2 linked regions of the Homo sapiens genome follow. The protein of the gene in region 1 interacts with the protein of each later gene in a pairwise test. Each region holds a gene or a part of one and is shown in the gene's direction. Other genes may lie near its edges.

What was found.
Region 2: the proteins of PEAR1 (region 1) and KRTAP4-5 interact in binary tests that used the Homo sapiens proteins (3 or more experiments, as listed by UniProt).

What each region holds. Positions count from the first base shown.
Region 1 is NC_000001.11:156,892,218-156,895,817, forward strand, and holds the start of PEAR1 (platelet endothelial aggregation receptor 1 isoform 1 precursor), read left to right. Parts: upstream 1-1,500; 5' UTR 1,501-1,620; intron 1,621-3,600.
Region 2 is NC_000017.11:41,148,424-41,151,842, reverse strand, and holds KRTAP4-5 (keratin-associated protein 4-5), read left to right. Parts: upstream 1-2,017; 5' UTR 2,018-2,075; coding exon 2,076-2,621; 3' UTR 2,622-2,919; downstream 2,920-3,419. UniProt on the Homo sapiens protein: In the hair cortex, hair keratin intermediate filaments are embedded in an interfilamentous matrix, consisting of hair keratin-associated proteins (KRTAP), which are essential for the formation of a rigid and resistant hair shaft through their extensive disulfide bond cross-linking with abundant cysteine residues of hair keratins.

The sequences.
Region 1 (3,600 bases):
AAGCCGCTCAGGACGTCGGTTTCGCCATATGTAAAAGGACATAATGATGAAACCAATCTCGAGTGAAGGATTCAATGAGGCAATACGCCTGAAGGGCTGACCACGGCGAAAGCTAATGTTCATTGCTATCAGGCGGGGAAAGCTAATGTTCATTGCTATCAGGCGGGGAAGGGCTCCCAGGTCTGGTCCCCCGGCTGTGGGGCTCTGGGAAGCGGATGCTAGCCGCGAGGTGGCGCTCGCACCGGACTCGGTGGGCTCAGGAGTTGCTTACGCGCTGGTGGGTGTGGGCCGGAGGCGGGGCGGGCAGAGGCGGAGAATGCTTCCCAGGGTCACACCCTCCCGCGGTGTGACTTTTTTCTTTTCTTTTTTTTTTCTTTCTTTTTTTTAAGATAGGGTCTCGCTCTGTCGCCCAGGCTGGAGTGGAGTGGCAGGATCTTGGCTCACTGCAGTCTCGACCTCCTAGGCTCAAGCGATCCTTCCTCTTCAGCCTCCCCAGTAAACCGAGACCACAGGTGCGCGCCACTACACCTGGCGCGTTTTTTTTTTTTTTTTTTTTTTGACGGAGCTGTGCTCTGTCGCCCAAGCTGGAGTGCAGTGGCACGATCTCGGCTCACTGCCACCTTCGTCTCCTGGGTTCAAGCGATTCTCCTGCCTCAGCCTCCCCCAGTAGCTGGGATTACAGGCGCCCACCACCACGCCCGGCAATTTTTTTTGTACTCTTCGTAGAGACGGAGTTTCACCGTGTTGGCCAGGCTGGTCTCTAACTCCTGACCTCAAATGATCCGCCCTCCTTGGCCTCCCAAAGTGCTGGGATTACAGGCCTGAGCCACGGCGCCCGGCCCTAATTTTTGTATTTTTAGTAGAGACAGGATTTCGCCATGTTGGCCAGGCTGGTCTCCAAACTCTGGGCTCCACGATCGGCCGGCCTCGGCCTTCCAAAGTGCTGGGATTATAGGCATGAGCCACCGCGCCCGGCCTTCCGCAGTGCGATTAGGGGCGGCAGGAGGAGAGGGGGGCCTCGCCCTGTCAGCCTCTCCGAGACTAGTGGGATGCGGTGCCCGGGAGGGGTCTTAATAAGATCACGGTTGCTGGGCAGCACTGGACAGTGCCCGACGTAGGCGATCTCATTGATTCCTTCCCACAACCCCACTTTGCAGATAGGAAAGCTGAGGCACGAGAGGGTAAGTAACCCAGGCCGCACAACGAGGGGAAGCTAGGGAGGGACTGGGGCCCTGGGCCCCTGCGCTGACCTCCCCTCCTCATCCCCTTCTTATCCCCCTCTGCTCCTGGCCCAGGCCGCGCAGAGTCGGCCTCTGTGATCCCACCCAGAATACAGTTTTCCCTCCCGGGCGCCTGGATCTCCCCTCCCCCGGCTCCTGTTTCCTTGTCAAAACTTCCTGCCTTGGCGAGGGCCCGAGTTCCCACCCCCTTCCTGCCCCCCGCCCCTCGGCGCCCCTCCCGGCCCTGCGATCAGCAGCGTCCCGCCTCCCCGCCGCTCCCGCAGTCAGGCTGGGGCTCGAAGTGGGGACCCTCGCCCCGTCCTCGGCTGTCCAGTCCTCCTCCTCGCAGACCCCGGCGGTTCCTACCCCAGGCCGCAGGGGAGACGGGGCCCCAAGGCAGGTGAGTGACTGCGCGCCCCCTGGCAGGGGAGGCCCGGTGGTGCGGCCCCGGAGACCACCCTGCCCCGGGGAAAGGGCTTGCGGTCCCTGAGGTCCCCCTCCTCGACTGGAGTCTGAGGCCCCAGACCCAGGAGTGTAGAAAAGAGGGACTGATGGAGAGAGACGTGAAGGAGGGGAAGGGGACAGTGGAGGGGGCCAGAGAGGATGGGTTGGGGGTTCCCTTCCGTAATGAACATGTAAATGAGATGAAATGCTAGCGAGGTTGTTCCCTAAGCCCCTGGTCCCCGGACTTTGTGAGTCAGGGGCAGCCTGGCTCACTGCCCCCTCCCAGGGCTGGGAAGAGAAGACTGGGTGCTGTCCTTGGCTTGCAAGGGAAGTGTAGCCACAAGAGCATCGACACTGGAGCCAAGACTGCCTAAGTGCCACCCTCCACTCTGCAGCTTACTGTCTGTGGGGTCTTGGTCAAGAGGCCTGACCTCTGTGCCTCAGTTTCTCATTTCTAAAGGAGAATAATATAGGGCCTACCTCATGGGTTGTGAGGCTTAAGTGAGCAAAAACGTGTCTCCTGCTTTGAATGACGCTAGATAAACAGATTATCAGTGTCATCTCTCTGTCCAGCGGCAGGAATGTTTGAGGGAGGATGTAGGGGAAGGACCCAGGTTTGCAGGTCCCTGGCTCTCACATCTTTGCCAGTTATGAGGACTGGGGGTTCAGCTTGAGGTCCCGGGCAACTGGATCCTCAGAAAACTTGGCAGGCTGATGATCTGAAGTTGTGCTAAGGGCCAGGTGGGTGTGTGGGGGGTCCAGGAGCCCAGGCCCCAGCAAGGCAACCCTTCACCCCCACCCCCGTCTCCAGCCTCCAGTAGCTGCTCTCCACTCCCCTGTTCTGGCCTGTTATGAGTGGCCTCTCCTGGGGCTGGGCTGTGACCCTAGTCCCCGGGGACAGGAACAGCTTGTGCTGGCCTGAGGTTCCCAGGCTCAGCCAGGGCTCAGCTCGGGCAGGATTGGGCCGGGTGTCAGCTCTCAACCCTGGCCTAAGCTGGCCTTGTGCTAGGGGGACGGTTGGAGACGGGGGAGCTCATCTCTGAACCCCACTCAAAACCAGCTCATGGTATAGGGCCTGTTGTGTGTGCTTGTGAGCCAGTCATAAGCCAGGGTGTGGGCGCAGCCCTCCTATCTCCTGTGTCTCCTCCCTGCTGTGTGGCCTCTCCCACTCTTGAGGCCTCCGAAGGCCCACCCACCATGTTCCCCACTGCAGGTGGGGCTGCCATCTCTAGGAGCTGGGTTGGCCAGACTCACTTCTCTGCCTTCCTCTCTCTCCACTGGAGGATGAAGCTGAGAGTTGGCATCTGTTCCTCCACCCTCTGTCCCCCCTCAACATCTCCTATCAGACTCTCCCAGAAGAGGAAACTCACGCTCCAGGCAGCCTCATCCACCAGTCGGAAACCTGGAGAGAGATAGAAGGTCATGGGGCTGCTGTGTGCCTCCCCGCACCCGACACACACTGCTGGGGAGGAGGCTGAGGCCAGGTGGAGCCTCCACCACGGCATTCCCCAAGCCTCTCCTCTGAGGAGCCTTGGGAGCCTTGAGAAAGAGGCCTCCCAGGACTCATGGGGGACCCTGGGGTGCCATCCTAGCTTTGGGGAGGATCTTGGCTTCTGTCATCTAACCTACAGGGGAGAAGCCAGAAGGAAGAGGCAGAGAAGACAGGGAAGGAGAGAGAGAAACACAAAGACAGAGATAGAGACAGATATAAATACGGAAACAGAGGCTGACAGATGCAGAGACACAGCAGAGGCACAGACTCATTACAACAAAATGCCCGGAGGGAGAAAAGCAGGCCTAGAAAAATAGAGCAGAGACCTAGGGATAGAACAAAAAGGAGGCGGAGACAGAGGGAGAGGAGGAGAAAGTCAGAAGACCAAAGAGAAACTGTGAGGTTAGAAGGCAGCACACTGGAAACACCAGGCGAGGTGGCTCA
Region 2 (3,419 bases), on another chromosome or scaffold:
ATTTATAAAGTATATATCTCATAAGGGGTTAACATCCAAAATACAAAAGGAGCTCAAACAGCTCACAAGCAAGAAAACAAAAACCTGATTAAAAATGGGCAAAAGACCTGACTAGACATTTCTCAAAAGAAGACATACAAATGGCTAACAGGTTTGTGAAAAAGTACTCAACATTACTAATCATTAGGGAAATACAAATCGAAACCACATTGAGATATCACCTTATTCCTGTTAGAATGGTTATCATCAAAAAGACAAAAGATGACAAGTATTGGCAAGGATGTGAAAAAAACTCCCTCGTACACTGTTGGTGGGAATATAAATTAGTTCAGCCATTATGGAAAACAATATAAGGGTTCCTCAAAAAATTAAAACTGGAATTACCGTATTATCCAGCAATCCACTTCTGGGTACCTTATATATCTACAGGAAATGAACTTAGTATGTTGAAGAAATAACTGCATGTCCAGATTTATTGCAGCACTATTCACAATTGCCAAGATATGCACACAGTGCAAGTGTCCACCAATGAGTAAGGGGATAAAGAAAATGCAGTATATACTCAGTGCAATACTATTTGGCCGTAAAAAGACGGAAGTTCTGTCATTTGTGACAACATGGATACATCTCAAGGAAATTATGCTAAGTGAAGTAAATCAGTCATAGAAAGACAGATAGCACATGATCTCACTCACATGATCGCACTCAAAAAAGTTGATATCATAGAAGTAGAGCAGAGAATGAAGATAATCAGAGGCTAGGGGTGGCTAGGGAGTCAGGGGCTTGAGGAGATACTGGTCAAAAGACATATAATTGTAGCTAGACAGGAAGAATCAGTTCAAGAGGTCTACTGTATAGCATAGTGACTATAGTTAATGATGATATATTGTACATACTGTATTCTTGAAAAATTCTAAGAATGGATATTAAGCGTTCTCACCACAAAAAAATGATAGGTATGAGAGGTAATGCATTTATTAGCTAGATTTAATCCTTCCACAATGTATATATACTTCAAAATATTATGTTGTATGTGGTAAATACAATATTATACGTCAATCTGAAAAATAACTAATTGTTTTTAATTTCACTGAGCTTGAGTTCTTTCTATATTAAGCACATCATGCAAGACACAGTAGTGGGGGTAGATAGATTCTTAAAAGTATTATACAGGTGTTACACAGTGTTAGGGAGCCTGGGTGAAGTACAGACAGCCTCTCCTGGGACTGTTTGTTACAGCTGTATGTAAATCTACAATTATCTCAAATTTCTTTTTTAAAAAGTGAAAACACACACCTGCATTATGTTAACAGACAGTTAGAGGCATTTAAAAAAAACAATGAGTTATGGAATAAAAATGGGACTATGTCTTCCGGAATCTAATAGATTAACTGGAGAGACATGACACAAAATATAGGAGAGCAAAGTATCAATTTAAGAAACTGACCCATTAGTAACACCAAGTATAAAAATTTAAGGATATGGAATATGACCCAAAATTTGAAACATTCAGGGAAACCCATTTCAATAGTGTAGAGGTCACCAAGGCCACATGCAGGTATTGCTATCCCTTTGCTTATTGCTTAATAATGACCCACAGACTAGGAATGCCACACTGAGCAGATGGGTTTTCCTCGCTATTGGTCACTAGAGGGAATGCATAACTGGAAGTGTGACTGACCAAATCCCATTTTGGTAGAGGGTACCTGAAGCGAGAGTAAGAAATGCAATTCCAAATGCAGGGAATCACATGAACAGCCCTCTGTGGAGGAAGAGGAAGAGAACGTGGTCTAGAAGATGCTACCGAGGTGTGAATCATGAGAGAAGGCAGACATGATAGATCTTATTACATCCGGACAAGAAAATTTTGTTTTCAACAAGTTTAAACCATTAAATGGGCAAACATTATTGTGTAATCTGATAATCACTTAGTTATTAAGTAAACAAAAACAAGGAAAATGTAGTACCAACAAGACAGCTGGGCAGTATATAAGAGGCTGTGGCCCAAGGACACTTCCAAACTTGAGAACCTCATTCTTCTAGAAATCCACCCAGAACCTCCACCCTCTGACACCATGGTCAGCTCCTGTTGTGGCTCTGTCAGCTCTGAGCAGAGCTGTGGCCTGGAGAACTGCTGCCGCCCCAGCTGCTGCCAGACCACCTGCTGCAGGACCACCTGCTGCCGCCCCAGCTGCTGCAAGCCCCAGTGCTGCCAGTCTGTGTGCTACCAGCCCACCTGCTGCCACCCTAGCTGCTGCATCTCCAGCTGCTGCCGCCCCTATTGCTGTGAATCCAGCTGCTGCCGCCCCTGCTGCTGCCAGACCACCTGCTGCAGGACCACCTGCTGCAGGACCACCTGCTGCTGCCCCAGCTGCTGTGTGTCCAGCTGCTGCAGACCCCAGTGCTGCCAGTCTGTGTGCTGCCAGCCCACTTGCTGCCGTCCCAGCTGCTGCATCTCCAGCTGCTGCCACCCCTCTTGCTGTGAATCCAGCTGCTGCCGCCCCTGCTGCTGCGTGCGTCCAGTCTGTGGCCGAGTCTCCTGCCACACCACTTGCTATCGCCCAACCTGTGTCATCTCCACCTGCCCCCGCCCCTTGTGCTGTGCCTCCTCTTGCTGCTAATGTCTCCTTGTGATATTTGTCATACTATGAATGTCTTCATTAGTCATTTAAAATGCACTGTAGCCAGCCAGTCACTGGAAAAATGAACACTTCCCTGCCAGTTTGTCTCATGTGGCATTCAGAGTGGACATTCAGCTCTTCTAGGAAATGACAGACAATCACATTCATTAAAATATGTTATGCCAGGCCCCAATGCAGTTATTTTTAGATGAGCAGTGTCTTCATTCGAAGGGGACACTAACTGTGATGATCTCATATAATATTGTTTTCATGTATTAATAAACAGCCACTTCCCTAATATTGAAATCTTCTGATTTGTTAGTGATCTCATTGTGCGTGTGTGTGTGTGTGTGTGTGTGTCTTTACCTGTCAGTTCACATCAAGGGCCATCTCTCTTCAAATGCAGGAGAGCATGTTTAAGAGCCTGGGCTCTTGATTCATGTTCCCTGCATTGGAATCACGACTCCCCTAGGTATTTGTTGCGTGGCATGGGGCAAGTTTTTTAACCTCCTCAGGCCTCAGTTTTCTTTCTCTGTGAATAGAGATAATGCATTACATTCTTTAAATGTTAAGAGACATAACCCATGTAATATACTCACCACAGGGCCTGGTACATAATGCAGTATAGGCTCTTAATGGATACAGTTTCTGGCCGAGCGTGGTGGCTCACATTTGCAATCCCAGCACTTTGGGAGGCTGAGTGGGTGGAACACTTGAGGCCAGGAATTCGAGACCAGTGTGGGCAACATAGTGAAATCCCTTCTCTACTGAAAGTACAAAAATTAGTTGGGCGTGTTG